2 separate regions of the Homo sapiens genome follow, and region 1 is linked to region 2. Evidence: fine-mapped expression QTL. A gene starts in region 2. The other region holds a variant in brackets. All regions are shown on one strand. Distances are from middle to middle. Region 1 has its middle 49 kb from the start of ABRAXAS2. Region 2 holds the start of EEF1AKMT2 (EEF1A lysine methyltransferase 2).

Evidence for each region. PIP is the estimated chance that this variant, and not a neighbour inherited with it, causes the effect. A credible set is the group of variants that fine-mapping cannot tell apart.
Region 1: its variant is the best candidate, but not a certain one, in a credible set for the expression of EEF1AKMT2 in prefrontal cortex (GTEx, PIP 0.67).

The regions. Positions count from the first base shown.
Region 1 is chr10:124,847,892-124,853,266 of GRCh38, forward strand. No RefSeq gene overlaps it. Among named protein-coding and RNA genes, the nearest start is that of ABRAXAS2, 49 kb to the left of the region's middle. The variant A/G (reference allele first, on the strand shown) is at 3,379.
Region 2 is chr10:124,788,677-124,794,051 of GRCh38, forward strand. It overlaps EEF1AKMT2 (EEF1A lysine methyltransferase 2), which reads right to left and starts at 3,211. Exons shown (of 7, transcript NM_212554.4): 1 at 3,048-3,211; 2 at 1,597-1,662; 3 at 367-481. The coding sequence starts at 3,157. RefSeq lists enhancers at 3,163-3,887, 3,515-3,824, 3,888-4,610 and a silencer at 3,325-3,384.

The DNA.
Region 1 (5,375 bases), 59 kb after region 2:
GGAGCCAGCAGTCAGTCACACGTTGCTACTGAGCACTTGAAACGCAGCTAGCAAGGCGAAAGAATTGAGGTTTTTTTGAGGCAGCATCTTGCTGTCACTCAGGTTGGAGTATAGTAGTGCAATCATGGCTCCCTGCAGCCTCGACCTCGTGGGTTCAAATGATCCTCCTACCTTAGCCTCCTATGCAGCTGGAACTACAGACATGTGCCACCATGACTGGCTAATTTAAAAAAGAAAAATTTTGGCCGGGTGTGGTGGCTCACGCCTGTAATCCCAGCACTTTGGGAGGCCGAGGTGGGTGGATCACCTGAAGTCAGGAGTTCGAGACCAGCCTGGCCAACATGGTGAAACCTTGTCTCTACTAAAACTACAAAAGTTAGCCGGGCATGCTGGTGGGCACCTGTAATCCCAGCTACTCGGGAGGCTGAGTCAGGGAGAGTTGCTTGAACCCAGGAGGTGGAGGTTGCAGTGAGCTGAGATGGTGCCACTGCACTTCAGCCTGGGGGAGAGACCCTGTTTTGTAAAAACGGGGGTCTTGGGGCCAGGCGCAGTGGCTCACGCCTGTTATCCCAGCACTTTGGGAGGCCGAGGCGGGCGGATCACGAGATCAGGAGTTCGAGACCAGCCTGACCAACATGGTGAAACCCCGTCTCTACTAAAAATAGAAAAATTAGCAGGGTGTGGTGGCGTGCGCCTGCAATCCCAACTACTCGGGAGGAGGATGGCTTGAACCTGGGAGGCAGAGGTTGTGGTGAGCCGAGATCGAGCCATTGCACTCCAACCTGGGTGACAGAGCAAGACTCCGTCTCGAAAACAAACAAACAAACAAAGAAAAAAACGAGGTCTCAATTTGTTGCCCAGGTTGCCCTTGAACTCCTGGCCTCAAGCGATCCACCCCCCCTTCCGATCCACCGCCACCTCTCAAAGTTCTGGCATTACAGGTGTGAGTCACTGCACCTGGCCCAAGTTTTAAATTTCATTCAATTTTAATTCATTTAAATCTAGATTTAAGAAGCTGCATGCCATATGGCTAATGGTTACCAAATTGGATGACATAGGATGCTGACCCCTCATTTCACAAAGAGGGAACAACCGAGGCAAGAGTAGCATGATGATGGGCCCAAGGTCACAAAGCCACTGAAAGACCCAGAGCCCAGGCCTCCTGCCTCCTCTTACAGCTGTGTCTGCTCCAGACCATGACGGGCTTGGAGAATGTCAGCACAGGAAAGGATAGTAGAGATCCTCTCCGGCAACATTTGTCCCAGATTGAAATAAACAAAGGACAGGCTGGAGCATTTGCTCTGGGCCCCACGGGGCTTGGCATCCTGCTCAGGAAGCGTGGCTGTCCTCAGCCCAGCCTGGGACGCTCTTCACAGTGTCCTGGCACCTTGGATGCAGACAGGCCAGAGCGGGAAGCATAAGGGGAGCTCGCCTGGGGCAGCTGCAATCTCGGTGACCCTTGTCCTGACAAGCACACTCCTCCCCCTGCTCAGGACGTGACAGGGAAGGCTGCATCAAGCAGAAGCCAACCTCATTTCTGCAGCTCATCCACACCTTCCACTTGCTCAGTCCTCGGCCTGCCTGCTCAGAGGTACCCAGGTGGAGGATCAAATTAATCCCCTTCTTCATCCGGAGGCTGGCATTCAAATCTCCACCCACCCAGGGAGAGTGGGCACAGAGTTATGGGCGAGGCTGAGTGACATCCAAGCCCTCAGGAGAAAGAGGATGGCGAGAGAGAGCCCTGGCACCTTGCTCTAGCCATCTGCTGCCGACCCGGCCTGAGTGCACTGTGCCTGAGCAGACGCTGGGAGAGGGTGCTCCAGGCACCTGGAGAGCAGGTGGGACTCATGTGCAGCCCCGTTTTGTTAGCATCTTCTCTCCCTCCTTCACTCTTTCTCTCTGTTCTCCAACCCTCCCTCTCTCCCCACCCCTTCACTCCCCTTCTCTTTTGTTCGAGTAAATTTTTATCAAGGTGTAACATATATACAAAAAAGGACACAAATCATAAATGTATAGCTTGTCAGATTTTCACAAAGTGAACATACCTATGTGACTGGCACGAACATTAAGAAACAAAACATTGGCCGGGCTTGGTGGCTCATTCCTGTAGGCCCAACACTTTGGGAGGCTGAGGCAGGTGGATCACCTGAGGTCAGGAGTTGGAGACCAGCCTGACCAACATGGCGAAACCCCGTCTCTACTAAAAATACAAAAATTAGTATTTTTGTATTTGGGTGTGGTGGTGCGTGCCTGTAATCCCAGCTGCTTGGGAGGCTGAGGCATGAGAATTGCTGGAACCCGGAGATGGAGGTTGCAGTGAGTCGAGATCACAGCACTTTGGGAGGCTGAGGCAGGCAGATCACCTGAGGTCAGGAGATCAAGACCATCCTGACCAACATGGTGAAACCCCATCTCTACTAAAATACAAAAAAAAAAAAAATATTAGCCGGGCGTGGTGGTGCATGCCTGTAGTCCCAGCTACTTGGGAGGCTGAGGCAGGGGAATTGCTTGAACCTGGGAGGCGGAGGTTGGAGTGAGGCCAGATCACACCACTGCACTCCAGCCTGGCGACAGAGCAGCCGGGCGGGGTGGAAAGCGCCTGTAATCCTAGCTACTCTGGAGGTTGAGGTAGGAGAATTGCTTGAACCCGGGGTGCAGAGGTTGCAGTGAGCCGAGATGGCACCACTGCACTCCAGCCTGGGCAACAGAATGAGGCTCTGTCTCAAACCAAAACAAAATAAAACAACATGCCTGTGCCTCACAATTTCCCTTCATGTCCCCTCTTGGTTGTTACCCTCACTCTGTTAACCTCTATCAACATAAATTGATTTTGTCTGGGCCGGGCACGGTGGCTCATGCCTGTAATCCCAGCACTTTGGGAGGCCAAGGTAGGCAGATCACCTGAGGTCGGGAGTTGGAGACCAGCTTGACCAACATGGAGAAACCATGTCTCTACTAAAAATGCAAAATTAGCTGGGCGTTGTGGCACATGCCTGTAATCCCAGCTACTCATGAGGCTGAGGCAGAAGAATCGCTTGAACCCAGGAGGCGGAGGTTGTGGTTAGCTGAGATTGTGCCATTGCACTCCAGCCTGGGCAACAAGAGCGAAACTCTATCTCAAAAAAAAAAAAAAATGATTTTGTTTGGTTATAGACTTTCCTACTTCTTTCACCCAACATGATGCTTGTATGATTCATTCAGGTTGTTGAGTACCCAATGGTCAACTGTTGATGGACATTTGAGACTTTTGAAAGGTGGGTGCAAATAATGCAGGTGTGAACATTCTCATCATGTGTTTTGGTAAATGTATGTCAGATGTCTGCATATATTTGGGGTATATAGATAGCTAAGAGTGAATTGCTGGTCAGAAAGGCTGCA[A/G]ATGTTCAGCTTTAGTAGAAGCCAACAGTTTCCCAAAGTTGTCCCACCAAGTCACACTCCCACAGCAAAGTATGGGCATTCCAGCAACCCCATCTTCAACCACATTTGGTATTGCCAGTTTAAAACATTTTAGCCATTCTGCTTAGCCTGCAGATCACTGTGATTTGCAGTTGCATTGCCCCAGAGACTGATGAGCTTATTTGGTCCTGCACCTGTTTTTTTGTCATGTTGTCTGCCTTTTTCTTATTGATTTGCAGACTTCATATATATTCCAGATACGAGGTTTAAGATATATATGCATGTGAATGTGTATATATATATGTGTGTGTTGGTATACATACATATGTATACATACCAACTATCTTCTTTCTCCCATTTAGTAGCTTGTCTTTTTACTCTTTTTTTTTTGAAACAGAGGGTCTTGCTCTGTCACCCAGGCTGGAGTGCAGTGGTGCAATCATAGCTTACTGCAGCCTCCACCTCCCAGGCTCAAGTGATTCTCTCGTGCAGCTGGGACTGCAGGCTCACACCACCACTCCCGGCTAATTTTTTTAAATTTTCAGTAGAGGCAAGGTTGTGCTATGTTGCCCAGGCTGTTCTCGAATTCCTGGACTCAAGCAATCTTTCTACCTCAGCCTCCTGAAGGTTGAAATTACATGTGTGAGCCACCTCTCCAGGCCATTTTACTCTCTTAAAGATGATTTTTGCTTAACAGAAATTCACCATTACAATCTAATATAATTTACCAATTGTTTTCCTTTATGGCTGTTTTTGTATCTTGTTTAATAAATCTTTACCTATCCAAGGCCATGAAACTTTGAGTTTGTTTTGTTTGTTTTTTTCAAGAAGATTTATTGTTTTAACTTTTCACATTTTTATTTTTGTATATGGTATGAAGGAATGGTCAAATTTTTTTTATGTTTTGTAATCTAAAGGCCAACGTTTACTTTTTCCCTATGAATATTCAGACAGTCTGGGCAACATGGGGAAACCCCATCCCTACAAATACAAAAAAAATTAGGCAGGCACGGTGGCATGCACCTGTAGTCCCAGCTACTTGGGAGGTGGAGGTGGGAGGAATGCTTGAGCCCAGGAGGACGAGGCTGCAGTGTGCTCTGATTGTGCCTATGAATAGCCACTGCACTCCAGCCTAGGTGACAGAGTGAGACCCTCTCTCAAAACAAAAGAATGTCTGGATGATTCAGCACCAGTTGCTAAAAATTACCGCTTCCCACTGCCCTGAATTATTACATTTGTCATAAATCAAATCAAACACAGATCTGTTTCTGAGCTTTGTTTTTTTTTTTTTTTTTTTTTTTGAGACAGAGTCTTCCTCTGTCCCCCAGGCTGGAGTGCAGTGGCCCAATCTCGGTTCACTGCAACCCCCACCTCCTGGGTTCAAGCTATTCTCATGCCTCAGCCTCTTGAGTAGCTGGGATTACAGGCGCCTGCCACCACGCCCAGCTAATGTTTGTATTTTAGTAGAGACGGGGTTTCACCATGTTGGCAGGCTGGTCTCAAACTGCTGACCTCAGGTGATCTGCCTGCCTCAGCCTCCCAAAGTGCTGGGATTACAGGTGTGAGCCACTGCACCTAGCCGAGGCCTATTTATCTTAATGTAGGCTAGCAATAACTGTTAATGTCTGGTAGTATGAATCCTGGAGCTTTGCTCTTGGTCACTCTTGGCTGTTTGCATTTCTATATATGTGTCAGAATTAGCTTGTCAACTTCTGCATGCCCCCAAATAATCTTGCTGAGATTTTTAAAATATTGCATTGGATCTATAGACTAGTTGGGAAGAATTGACATCTTTACGATATTGAGTCTTCTAATCCATGAACTAGCTGTCCATGTGTGTGTGTGCCTGTGTGTGTTTTGAGATGAAGTCTCGCTCTTGTTCCCCAGGCTGGAGTGCAGTGGTGCGATCTCGGCTCACTGCAACCTCCGCCTCCCGGGTTCAAGCGATTCTCCTGCCTCAGCCTCCAAAGTAGCTGGAA
Region 2 (5,375 bases):
CGTATGTCCTACTGGAATTGCAAAAGGTCATCTTTATATATATATATATATATGCATTTCTAGAGTTTTGAGCTACAAGAAACCAATAGCAATCACCTAGTCACAACCCTTAGGAAAGAACAGAAGCCTAGAAAAATTAAGTGGCTTACTCAAGGTTAAGACTATAGCCAAAAGAGTCAAGACTAGGACTCAGATTGCCTAGGTTCTCTCACAATCCATGTAGCCTCCCTTTTGTACTATCTGACTTCTCCAAGTATGACTGCTTTACTATTTTATATTTAGATGGTTAATATCCTCAATTGCAGGGCCTTTAAAAATTTTCCTTTTAAAATTTGTCTTTAACAAACAAATACTAAAAGTACCAACAAGTTCAACCAGGAAAACACCATTTCCAGTTCCAATATCAAGCACTGAAGCATCCAGTGGAATCTTGTGTTTCTGCATCCACCTTATTAGTCGATTCATACTCTCTTCTCCAAACCTGTTAGAGAGAATCAGTCAAATAACTGAGGGATACAGAGCAAAAGTCACCACTATATTCCATTTAAGCTATTTATACCATATGCTCAAACTCTTATTTGAAAGTGAAAACATCTGTGACTGCTTCAGCTTTGTCTCTACTGTAATTTAGGAGAAACCACCTCCAGGAATACAACAGAATAGACAAGGTCAGTATGTTATTTACTAACATTTCTCTATATCAGCATTAACAGTTGTATGTGTTGGTGTCTCAGAATTTTATTGTTTATTGACAAAGGACAACTATAGGGTGAAATGCTGTCATCAAACGTAAATGTGAGATATTAAAAGAGGGCTCACACCCATTCTCCCAACACTTTGGAAGGCCACGGTGGGAGGACTGCTTGAGGCCAGGAGTTCGAGACCACCCTGGGTAACACAGTGAGACCCTGTCTCTACAAAAAAGAAAATTTGCTGGGCATGATGGCATGCAGCTATAGTCCCAGCTACCCAGGAGGCTGTGGCGGGAGGATCACCTGGGCCCAGGAGGTCCAGGATGTAACGAGTTATGATGATCATGCCACTGTACTCCAGCCTGGATGACAGAATGACACCCCACCTCTCTAAAAAAAAAAAAAAAGTAAAAAATTAAAAAAGAATAAAAGAAGAGACATACTTTAAATCTACCCACTAAAGCCAGACTTAATCCAGGGTTCCCAGGATTTTTAGGCTTTCTTTGGGTATAAGCACTTGAATATATGCATTTTTTTTTTTGAGATGGAGTCTCACTCTGTCGCCCAGGATGGAGTGCAGTGGCGCGATCTCAGCTCACTGCAATCTCCGCCTCCCAGGTTCAAATGATTCCCCTGCCTCGGCCTCCCAAGTAGCTGGGACTACAGGCGCGCGCCACCATGCCTGGCTAATTTTTTGTCTAATTTTCGTAGAGACAGGGTTTCACCATGTCGGCCAGGATGGTCTCTATCTCCTGACCTCGTGATCTGCCTGCCTCGGCCTCCCAAAGTGCTGGGATTACAGGCGTAAGCCACCGCGCCCGGCGAATATATACGTATTTTTTTAAACACACACACATATACATATAATCTTCTAGATTATAACTTGATTCTTTTCCTAACTCACCAGATTTCACCTGTATCTCCATATTCTCGGAAAGTTTGCAGTTCTCTCTCATAGACAGCATCCCAACTATGTAAACAATGAAATGCAAAGCAAGACTCTTGAATTAAACTGTATTATGAATTAAATGTATGTTTCTAATACATTACAGAGCTATTTATGACAGAGGTTTAAACATCACTAGTGTTATTAATAAATACACATAGTTCAATCTTTTAACGTCCTTGAGTTAAAAGAAGGAAATACATGGGCAAGCAGAATACGTTTATACTGTACATGTAAAGCATTTAGGACAATATCTGATGCACAACAATAAGTTTTAGCCTAAAAAAACACAAAGACATTTGTCCACGTATCCCTAAGTCCCTGACCCAAGTTCAAAACTTGATGAAACAAGCACATCTGGTCTCAAGTGTGCAGGCACACAGTCTCTTTCCTGTGCTATTTGTCTCTGCCTATTCCAGTCTTCTAGCCCTCCGTTTAAATTTTCTCTGGACGCTTTTCTTCTTTTTTTGAGACGGAGTCACGCTCTGTCACCAGGCTGGAGTGCAGTGGCGCGATCTCGGCTCACTGCAACCTCCGCCTCCCGGGTTCAAGCGATTCTCCTGCCTCAGCCTCCCGAGTAGCTGGGACTACAGGTGTGCGCCACCACACCCCGCTAATTTTTGTATTTTTAGTAGAGACGGGGTTTCACCATGTTGGTCAGGCTGGTCTCGATCTCCTGACCTTGTGCTCCGCCCGCCTCGGCCTCCCAAAGTGCTGGGATTACAGGCGTAAGCCACCACGCACCCGGCCCTCTGAATCCTTTTCATTTGCCGTCTCTTTTCCTACAATGATTCTCTAGAATCCCTGCTCCCTCTCATCCCGCCAATTTACCTCTCCCCAACTGTTCCCTGCAGCCATTCATCCACCCACATTAATTCATTTAATAATTCCTGAGCGTCTGTTTGAGGTCAGATCGCTTTCTTTCACCCCAAGATCCCCCACTATCTCCCCGCTCCCGCCTCGGGTCATCCGCTATTCCCACCCCACTTCCAGCTCCCACATCCCTCCCCTCCTACTCAGCCTTTTCGGCTCCCAGGCCCAGCACTTCTCCCTCGGTCTCTCACTCTCGCCGACCAGCCCTATTCGCCAGCCTCGCCCTCTCCCCCTTTCCCCCAAGCCTGGCCCTCAGGTTCGAGACTCCCAAAAGGCCTCCCAGGAGCCAAAGCCTGTCCCGCACCCACAAGCCCCTTGGGCTCCAATCCCTTGAAACGTCGGTTAACCGCGTAGGGCGACCCCTAGGGATTCCACTCTTTGAAATCCCCGTAAGCCCCCCGCCAGGTGGCCCTGCTCCCGTCACGCCCCCGAGGGTCTCCCTGTCCCTGAGCCCCGGGTCTCCACCCCGCCGTCCCCTTCTCGGGGCCCAGGCAGGGCGGCACGGCTCATCCTCCCCTGCCCAGCGTCACACTCACTGCTCGCGGGTCCCCAGCGCCGACGGGACGAAACCGTCCTCCCCGGGACTGCCCTTGTCCGACCGCGCCGCCACCGCAGCGCCACCGCCGCCGTCAGCGCCCGAGCTCATTTCGCTCCACGTCCTGGACGGCCGTTGGGGCCGCCATAGAGACGGGGCACAGGCAGAGCGGACGAGCGGACCGGCGCCTCTAGGCGGCGGGAGGCCGCCCTCTCGACTGCTCCAGCCCCCGCGCTGGGGCTGGGATGGGGACGCGACGCCCTCTGCTCTACCCCCGGCTCCCTGCGCCGGCGGGGACCGTGCGCTCTCCCCACAGCGTTAGTGGCATCCCCTTCGTCGAGGTCCAAGAGCGGCTGTATTTGGGGACTGCTGTTCGTGAGGGACCATTAGAGGTATTGCATTTTGGAAAACGGCTGGCTTCCGCACCGTGGACACCTAAAGCCGACGCCGCTCTACCCAAACGCAGAAATCACTTCACCTCTCCACTGCGTGCGCCTGTCTGCGAAGCGGGTGCGAGCGTCCATCCAGTTATTTGGCTCCTTGGCAAGAGGCCAACTTCGTTTCTGGCTAAGATTCTGACTTGAAAACCGCGTTCTGGCCTCTTGTGACTTGATGTCACCGGTAGACGTGGAAATTTATGTCCAGGGAAAGGAATGCCCTGCAACTCTCCACAATACGCCAAACACGGGGATCAGTGTGTTGTGGAAGAAAGACTGCTAAGTGAGAGGATGCCCGGATAAGCCTCAGCTCTGCCTCGACCCAGGCACCTGGCCTTGCTTAAGTTTGTTTTGTTTTGTTTTGTTTTGTTTTGTTTTTTGAGACGAAGTTTCGCTCTTGTCGCCCAGGCTGGAGTGCAATGCAATGGCGCGATCTCGGCTCACCGCAACCTCCGCCTCCCGGGTTCAAGCGATTCTCCTGCCTCAACTTCCCGAGTAACTGGATTACAGGCGGGCGCCACCACGCCAGGCTAATTTTGTTTTGTTTTGTTTTTTAGACGTAGTCTCGCTCTGTCGCCCAGGCTGGAGTGCAGTGGCTCGATCTCGGCTCGCTGCAAGCTCCGCCTCCCGGGCTCACGCCATTCTCCTGCCTAAGCCTCCGGAGTAGCTGGGACTACAGGCGCCCACCACCACGCCCGGATAATTTTTTGTATTTTTTTTAGTGGAGACGGTGTTTCACCGTGTTAGCCAGGATGGTCTCGATCTCCTGACCTCGTGATCCACCCGCCTCGGCCTCCCAAAGTGCTGGGATTACAGGCGTGAGCCACCGCGCCCGGCCTAATTTTGTATTTTTAGTAGAGACGGGGTTCCTTCATGTTGGTCAGGCTGGTCTCGAAGTCCCGACCTCAAGTGATCCTCCCGCCTCAGCCTCCCAAAGTGCAGGGATTACAGGCGTGAGCCACCGCGCCTGGCCTCTTGTCTAAGTCTTAACCTCTGTGTGTTTCCTCCCTGTACCATGTCAGAACTAGACGGTGTCTTTGTTCCACAAAACTGCTCCCAACCCGCGAACCGGAGATTGCATCTGCCTCTGGGTCTGAGTGCCATTGGTAGATCTGCAGTATAATACAAGAGATCTTATGGGCCAAAGTCTGGGGTATTTTCTGTAGTAGCTGTGAAATACTGCTGGTCCTATGTCCTAGGCAAGGCCCTCAAATGCCCCTAGCGAGACTGCCTTCCAACCAAAAGGAATTGTTTGCTAGGCCACGTTTCTGTTGTCTTGGCAGACAGAAGCCCAGTAACAAGTCCCTAAAGATAAAATAGCATCAGAAATCCTTCCTAGGATCGGATGCGCATCTCCTATAGATGCTGTTCTGAGATCTTCAGGCAGCCACTAGTGATAGGGTAAGATAAAAGGCAGACAGGAGGCCGGACACGGTGGCTCACGCCTGTAATCCCAGCACTTTGGGAGGCCAAGGCAGGCAGATCACGAGGTCAGGAGATAGAGACCATCCTGGCCAAAATGGTGAAATCCTGTCTCTACTAAAATACAAAAAATTAGCCAGGCATGGTGGCGCGCGCCTGTAGTCCCAGCTACTTGGGAGGCTGAGGCAGGGGAATCATTTGAACCTGGGAGGCGGAGATTGCAGTGAGCCGAGATTGCGCCACTGCACTCCAGCCTGGCAACAGAGTGAGACTCTGTCTCCAATAATAAAAAAAAAAAAAGGCAGATGGAAATCCTTGTGCGTAATGATTAAAGTAAAGGCCGGGCGCAGTGGCTCAAGCCTGTAATCCCAGCACTTTGGGAGGCCGAGGCAGGCGGATCACCTGAGGTCAGGAGTTCGAGACCAGTCTGGCCAACATGGCGAAACCCCATCTCTACTAAAAAGACAAAA